2 linked regions of the Homo sapiens genome follow. The protein of the gene in region 1 purifies or fractionates together with the protein of each later gene. This does not show direct contact. Each region holds a gene or a part of one and is shown on either strand. Other genes may lie near its edges.

What was found. The genes of interacting proteins can lie anywhere in the genome.
Region 2: the proteins of GPR12 (region 1) and TAP2 purify together in Homo sapiens (co-immunoprecipitation; 2 studies listed by BioGRID and IntAct, with this or other methods). This does not show direct contact.

What each region holds. Positions count from the first base shown.
Region 1 is NC_000013.11:26,758,601-26,762,348, forward strand, and holds the start of GPR12 (G-protein coupled receptor 12), read right to left. Parts: upstream 2,187-3,748; 5' UTR 1,979-2,186; intron 1,243-1,978; 5' UTR 1,228-1,242; coding exon 223-1,227; 3' UTR 1-222. UniProt on the Homo sapiens protein: Promotes neurite outgrowth and blocks myelin inhibition in neurons. Receptor with constitutive G(s) signaling activity that stimulates cyclic AMP production.
Region 2 is NC_000006.12:32,832,039-32,835,786, forward strand, and holds part of TAP2 (antigen peptide transporter 2), read right to left. Parts: intron 3,736-3,748; coding exon 3,605-3,735; intron 3,322-3,604; coding exon 3,116-3,321; intron 787-3,115; coding exon 589-786; intron 424-588; coding exon 295-423; intron 1-294. UniProt on the Homo sapiens protein: ABC transporter associated with antigen processing. In complex with TAP1 mediates unidirectional translocation of peptide antigens from cytosol to endoplasmic reticulum (ER) for loading onto MHC class I (MHCI) molecules.

The DNA.
Region 1 (3,748 bases):
AGTGGAGAGCTCAACAATTTTTTTTAATGGTGAAAACACTGGTAACATTATTTTCACTTCAATCACTTAACTCATCTGAACGATGTCATTGTTTCACGAATGCTAAGTGCTCCTGTGGCTTGAGAGGGAATCCAATGCAAGGAATTCAAGGGAAGCATCTCAAACCTTGGCCAGGCAGTGGAAGTGCTTGGTAAATGCAGAGTCCTCCTGGGTGCAAGGGTGCTACACATCACTGGGCGAGCGCGCTCTCTGGGCGAGACTGGACGGGATGCAGCCGCAGCAAATGAGACAGAGCGCTTTCTGGATCTCTTGGTTTCTGAAAGCATATATGACAGGGTTGATGATGGAATTGTAGGTGGCGGGCAGGAGGGTGGCGTAGGTATAGATGGAGGGGTAGGTGTAATCCGCTATCAAGGAATAGAGGGTGAAAGGCATCCAGCAAGCAGCAAACGTCCCCAGGATGATAGCCAGGGTGGAGACCCCTTTCCGGGTGGTCACATAGTGCGACGTGGCCAGGAAGTGGTGCTGCAGGGCTATCTGATGGGCGTGCCTCATCACAATCTTACAGATCTGGATGTAGAGCTGAAGCATGAGCGCAAACATGAAGAGGAAGGACACCGAGAGGATGGCCGCGTTGTTCTTGGTGAGCGGTCTGACCACGCTGCAGGTGGACTCGTCTCGGAGGCAGTTCCAGCCCATGACGGGCAGCAGCCCCAGGCAGATGGAGGTCCCCCAGAGCATGACGAGCATGACATAGGTAAACGTGACCGTCCTCTCCGAATGGTACGTCAGAGCGTAGTACAGTGAGAGGTAGCGGTCAACAGTGATAGCCAGCAAGCTGCAGACAGAGGCAGAGAAAGAGGCGACAATGAGGCCGATCGTGACCAGCTTGGTGGCTTCTGACTGAAGCAGGTAGGCAAAAACAAAATTGGTGATGAGTCCAATGCCGGCCAGCAGGTCTGCAAGAGCCAGGCTGCCTATTAGCAGGAACATGGGTGCTCGCAGGCTGGGGTTGTGGAAGATGATAAGGACCACAATGGCATTTTCACAGGAGATGAGGGTTCCCGAGGTACACAAGACAATGTCCCAGGGGTTGACTACGAGCTCAGGCTCTGGCTCTACGGCAGGAACCCGGGAGGAGACAGCAGCCGAGATGTTCTCCGCAGCAGCGGCATCTAAATAATCCCGAGGCAGCCCGCTTAAATTGACCTTCAGGTCTTCATTCATTTTAACCCCTGTCCTCTTCAACGAAAAGACAGGCTTTTTAATGTTTAAATACAGCAGGGTGACAATCCAAGATCATGCAAAAAACACACAGACAAACAGAAAGCCAGCCCCTGCTCAGATACCAGTACCAAATGCCACAAGCTTCGGGAATGAGGAACTGTTGGGAAATGAAACAAAAGCCAAAGTCTCTGTGGTTTAAACCCCACAACAAAAATGCCGTTTGGCATTGGGGAAAACACAGGGTAGGACTTCAAAACACCAGCGTGAGCGAGGCAGGCACACACGGACTCGCGGCGGTCTGTTTGCAACAGCGCTGGGAATGCACATTGGAAAATCACATCTTGCATGCTGAAAACGAACAACTGTTTGACATCTGGGCTGCTGCCGAGAAAACCACGCGGCAGCGGCAGGTCTCGAGCCAGGGGCCGCCATCCTCGATGGAATATTTAAATCGCCTATTTCCATCGAACTCCCACCCTCCAAACGCATCCCCCGCGCGCGTGCACATCCTCAAACGCACCCCCGACCGGAACAAAGAGGGGCTCCAGACTCCCCCCGTGCGCACGGGGCAGTCGGGAGGGCCACGAGAGGGAGGTGTGTGCAATGGAAGTACCGAGACAGACAGACAGACAGATGCCCATGCACTGCTGCCGATTCCCTGGCGGCGGGGACGGGAGTCGGACGCGAGGGGGACAGACAGGGTGCGGGGACAGGCGGCCCGCGGGGGCGGGGGGGTCATCGAGGGGGTCACCTTGGCTCGCCCAGGCCGAGGGGGCTCCTCCGGTGCTTCCGAAGCGCGTGGGCTACTCGTGTCGCATGTCGGCGCAGTTGCCCGCTGTGGCAAGGGGGGGGCGGCCGGGCTCCGGAGCGGGCCGGGAGGGCGCGGGGCGCGCACTCCGCGGCAGGTGAGCGGCGCGGCTGCAGGTGAGCAGCAGCCTCGGCTCGCGCGCCCAGCTTTCCCCGCCGCGCCCGCCCGGCCCACACGCTCCCCGCGCGCGCGCCGCCCCCGCCCCGCGCGCGCCCGGCCGCCCGCCCGCCCGCGGGATCCCCGCGAGGCCGCGCGCCCCCACGGGTCAGGGCTGCTCTAGGGTGCGGGCAGGCGAGGGCGGCCCAGGGGCGCGGGGCGAGGGGCGAAGGAGCCAGGAGGCTGAGAACTGCATGGTAGCCCTGCCTGCCTGCCGCGCTGCGCGCCCCACCCCAGCCGGCGGCCCCGGGCTTGCACCGGGCGGGGCAGGGGAGCGCTGCCTGGAGCCCTGTGACCTATTTCGTTCCTGTGGTTTCCCTGGGGAGCTCCAAGTCTCTACAGTCCTGGCTTTTCCACGCCTTTACCTAAACCACTACATTCAGGGCCAAAAGAATTGCTTAGGATGATATTCACGATCAGCAGCAGGGATGCGGGGTGGACAGGTTAGGGAAGCAGATCTTTAAAACAACAAAATGCCCCGCACGCTCTTTTAGAATTGCCCATGGTCCTGGACCTGGTTCATTATCACTGTTCCCCAGGAACATTTGCTTGACTGGATAGATGCTGCTGCTCTGTGGATCATCATTATCATCACCAAATTGCACTTATTAAGCGCTCTTTGAGCTGTGTTTTCAAATGGAAATCATTTACTGAGTTCTTGTAGAAGCTTCCTGCAGACATTGGCCAAACCCCAATTCATTTAGATACTGAAGTGGCACTATTAATTTATTTTTTCATTTTGCCACATCAATGGATTCTAAGATGAAGAACCTGATAGCTGTCTGCTTTTATGATCCCATGCCTCCTCTGGATATAAAAACCAGAGCACCTCATAGATCTTAAGTTCCAAGATGATCCTCCAGTTTAAAGATGGGATAAGGAAAAAGTGTGATAGTCTTGTCTTGCCCTGTCAGAGGTGAAGGTTTTCCCACTGCTTTTCTTCCACTTGCCCAGGGGCTCTTGTATGAATGGAGATGGTCTGCAGGCAAGGGACCCTACAGGGGCATCATCAGCTGACCAGCCTGCCTTCCCCTGGTGCTCACGTCTTCTCTACCCCAGCCCAACAGATTCGGAGCCTCAATCACCCTTGACTTTCTTCCCGCTTCTCCTTCCCTTCTTCCATCAATCAGTTTCTGGCTCTGCAAGGTCACTCCAGCTCTCCCTGCATGCCACTTCTCATCATCCTCAGCTCCCTGGTTGAGGCCCTCATCCCCTCTCACCTGCATTTCTGGTACCCACCTGCCTCTCCCTTTCCCAACCTCCTCGATTTGGCACATCTATTCCATGATGTCCAAGACCTCCTGCTACCTCCAGAATAGTCTGAACTTTTTACCTTGACAGATTCTGCTCAGTAGTTCTTGGGGTGGGCCTACCTTCTGCATTTGCAAGCCTCTTCCCCAGTGATGCTGCTGCTGCTGCTGGTTGACAGATCACACTTTGAGAAGCAAGGTTCTATGGAGTTTTCAGAGTGGCTTGTTCATGGTGGGGAGGCATCAGACTCGTGTGTGTCCCAAGAACCGGGCTAAGGGCTGGGCATAGAAATTCAGTAAGACACGG
Region 2 (3,748 bases), on another chromosome or scaffold:
CAATATCTTGGATTTGCTTCAGAATAATATGGGTGGGGGGAAGTGGCTGGGGATACAGATCCAACAAGATTGGGCATGAGTTGATCATTGTTAAAGCACAGGATGTATACATGTGAGTTTGTAATATTATTTTGTCTCATTTTTGGCATATGTTTAAAATTCTCCATAGCAAAATTACTTGCGGGTTTTGGTTTTGTATTGTATTGTTAAAAAGAACAAATAAAGCCCAAGGCCCAGGAGTCCACAAAGAAAAAGAGAGGGAAAAAAGGAGAGCAGGCTTGGCTTCTCGCTCACCTGCACATAGCTCCCCACGCTCTCCTGGTAGATCATAAAGGAAAGCAGGCTGCCCTGGGTGAGCTCCCCATCCTGCATCTGCTGCAGCCCACAGCTCAGCATCAGCATCTGCACCCCCAAGTGCAGCACCTGGAAGAGGAGAAGAAAGAGATGAGGCTGGGAATCTTCCCATTCTTTCCCCCTCTCTGCCTCTATGAGACTGAGCTGCAAAGGCCTCTAGAACCAGCTGTAGTTTCCTCTTCCCTTGCCCTCCCCCTTTCCTGGGCTCCTTTCACAACCACTCTGGTATCTTACCCTCCTTACGAGCAGGTACAAGGCGCGTTCCAGGTCTCTCCGCCAATACAGCTGCCGACATTGTTCAAGGGCCTCTTTATAGCGACAGACTTCATGCTCCTCGGCCCCAAAACTGCGAACGGTCTGCAGCCCTCCAACGGCTTCCCGCACCACCTGCCCCGCCCTGGCCACTGCATCCTGGATCTCCCGAAGCACTTCCTGGAAAAGAGGGCCAGCAAACACCAGGGCTGATGTGCAAAGACAGCAGGCCCCCACATCTTACTCCAGCCAGTGAGATGCTCCCTAGTCTACCTAAAAATACCAAACTGTTTCTCTCCCTCTTCCTTACTCTTCTTTCCAGAAGGAATAAGAGTGAAGGAGCAAGGGAACAAAATATTATTGAGCTCTCAGTGTTAGGTAGTATAGGAGATACATGCAATTTTTTTAACCTTCATTTGAGGTAATTTTCCCATCCCCAGTGTCTGAATCAGGAAAGAAGGGTAGTTTTCCCAAGGAGCCACAGATAGTTAAGAAAGGTGGAGATGTAATTCCAAATGGATCAGAGGCCTAAACATAAGAGCTAACACTATAAAACTCCTAGGAAAATGTAGAAGAAAAGCCTCATGCCACTAGATTTGGCAGTGATTTCTTGGATATAACACCAAACGCACAGGCAACAAAAAATAGATAAATCAGACTTCATCAGAATTTAAAACGTTTGTGCATCAAAGAACTCTAGCAACAGAGTGAAAAAGCAACCATGAAATACAAGAAAATATTTGTGAATCATATATCTGATAGGAAATTAATAGGCAAAACATATAGTGAACTCCCACAACTTAAAAAAAAATCAGAAAATGGGCAAAGAACTTGCAGACATTCTTTCAAGAAAGAAACATAAGTGGCCAAAATCACACGAAAAGATGCTCAATATTTACTAATCATTAGGGAAATGCAAATCAAAACCACAATGAGATAATCCTAATCACCTAATCACCATTAGAATGGCTATTAAAAAAAAAGACAACAGAAAGTGGTGTTGATGAGGATGTGGAGAAATTGGAAACCTTATGCACTGCTGGTGGGAATTTAAAATGGTGCTGCCGCTATGGAAAACTGTATGGTGGTTTGATACGATCTGGCTGTGTCCCTACCCATATCTGATCTTGAATTCCCATGTGTTGTGGGAGGGACTGGGTAGGAGGTAATTGAATCATGAGGGCAAGTCTTTCCCATGCTGTTCTTGTGATATTGAATAAGTCTCACGAGATATAATGGTTTTAAAAAGGGGAATTCCCCTGCACAAGCTGTCTTTTCTCTTGTCTGCTGCCATGTGAAATGTGTCTTTCACCTTCCGCCATGATTTGAGGTCTTCCCAGCCACATGGAACTGTAAGTCCAATAAACCTCTTTCTTTTGTAAATTGCCCAATCTTGGGTATGTCTTTATCAGCAGCGTAAAAATGGACTAATACATGGTTCCTCAAAAATTGTTAAATAGAATTGCCATATGATCCAGCAGCTCCACTTCTAAGTATATACCCAAAAGAACCAAAAGCAGGGTTTCAAACAGGTGTACACTCATGTCCACAGCAGCATAATTCACAACAGCCAAAAGGTGGAAACAACGCAAATGTCCATTGACAGATGAATGGATAATCAAAATGTGATATATGCACACAACAGAATATTATTCAGCCTTAAAAGGGAGGAAATTCTAACACATGCTACAATATGGATGAGGCCTGAAGACATTACGCTAAGTAAAATATGCCAGTCACAAAAAGACAAATACTGTATGGTTCCACTTACGTACCGCACCGGGAGTCATCACAATTCATGGAGACAGAAGGTACAATGGAGGTTGCCAGCGGCCAGGGGTTGGGGGTAGTAGGCAGTTACTATTTAGTGGGTACAGAGTTTCATTTTAGGAAGATGAAAAAAGTTCTGGAGATGGATGGTGATGATGGTTACCCAATAACAATGTGGGTTTCCTAAATGTCACTGAACTGTACACTTCAAATGGTTGAAATGGTAAATTTTATGTTATGTATGTTTTACCACAATATAAGAGAAAAAGAGAAGGTGGAGCTGACATTCAGACTTAGGACTTCCTGATGACGCCTCCTTTCCCTATGCTGCATCCAGACTTCTTCTGCTGATTTTAAAGGGAAAATCTCCCTGCCTAAAAGCCTCTAAGAAACCATTTTTAATCTTCGCAGTGGGGGCGGGGGATGTACAGACTCCTTTGAGAAGCTAATGAAAAGTTATCATCGCCTATCATCTCCCCTTCCTATTCCCTCCCCCATACCTTCACATACACTTTACATTTTTGTTTACAGTTCTGGAGAATCATGAATCTTCTGAAGTCAAATATCCATTGTTGGATGGCTGGACAAACAAAATGTAGTATATACTACAATATACCTTCTCCCCTAATGGCTGAGAAGAGAACATCTCTCTCTAGGGGATCCTCTAGCCACAAATGTGGAAGCCTCCTCACCTGTCAGTTTTATTCTCCCTTTGGGGTTCCCTTACATGCACGCTCACCTGATGGCGGGTGTTGTACACCTTCTCCGCTGCTATTGTGAAGGGCATGTGCAGCAGAGAAAGGAGGGTGAGTCGAGGCGATATGCTGAGCATGAAGCCATACAGCCCCACCACTTTCACCAGGCTTCGCAAGAGCACATTGGCATTTAAAGGAAGCCAGTTACTCATCAGGGTGGTATCCGAGCTCAGCCGTGAGTTCAGCTCCCCTAAGAAGGACAGAGCAGGTGAGGAAAAAGGAAACCATGTGTACTGCAGGGCCCCCAGAAACTCCCTCCTGACCGTTCCCTCTGACACAGCCCCCTCCTCTGAACATCCTCCTTCACTTGCAGAGGGACAGTGGAGGCTGCTTCTCCACCCTGTCCCAAACAAGAGAAAAGCATCCCCAAGTCCTGGCATACGGGTGAAGGCAGGAGGAGAGGCTGTGGGTGGAAGGTCACTGAGGGGCAAGGGATGTCCATGGGAATCTCAGACCTGGACTCCAGGCCCCACCTGTCTTAGTCTCCTGGAAGAAACCGAGGTCCTGGCGCAGCAGGGAGGAGAAAAGCTGCTCCCGGATCCGCAAGTTGATTCGAGACATGGTGTAGGTGAAGCAGCCTCCTCGGCAGCCTGCAGACAGTGAGCTGTGGGGTAGGA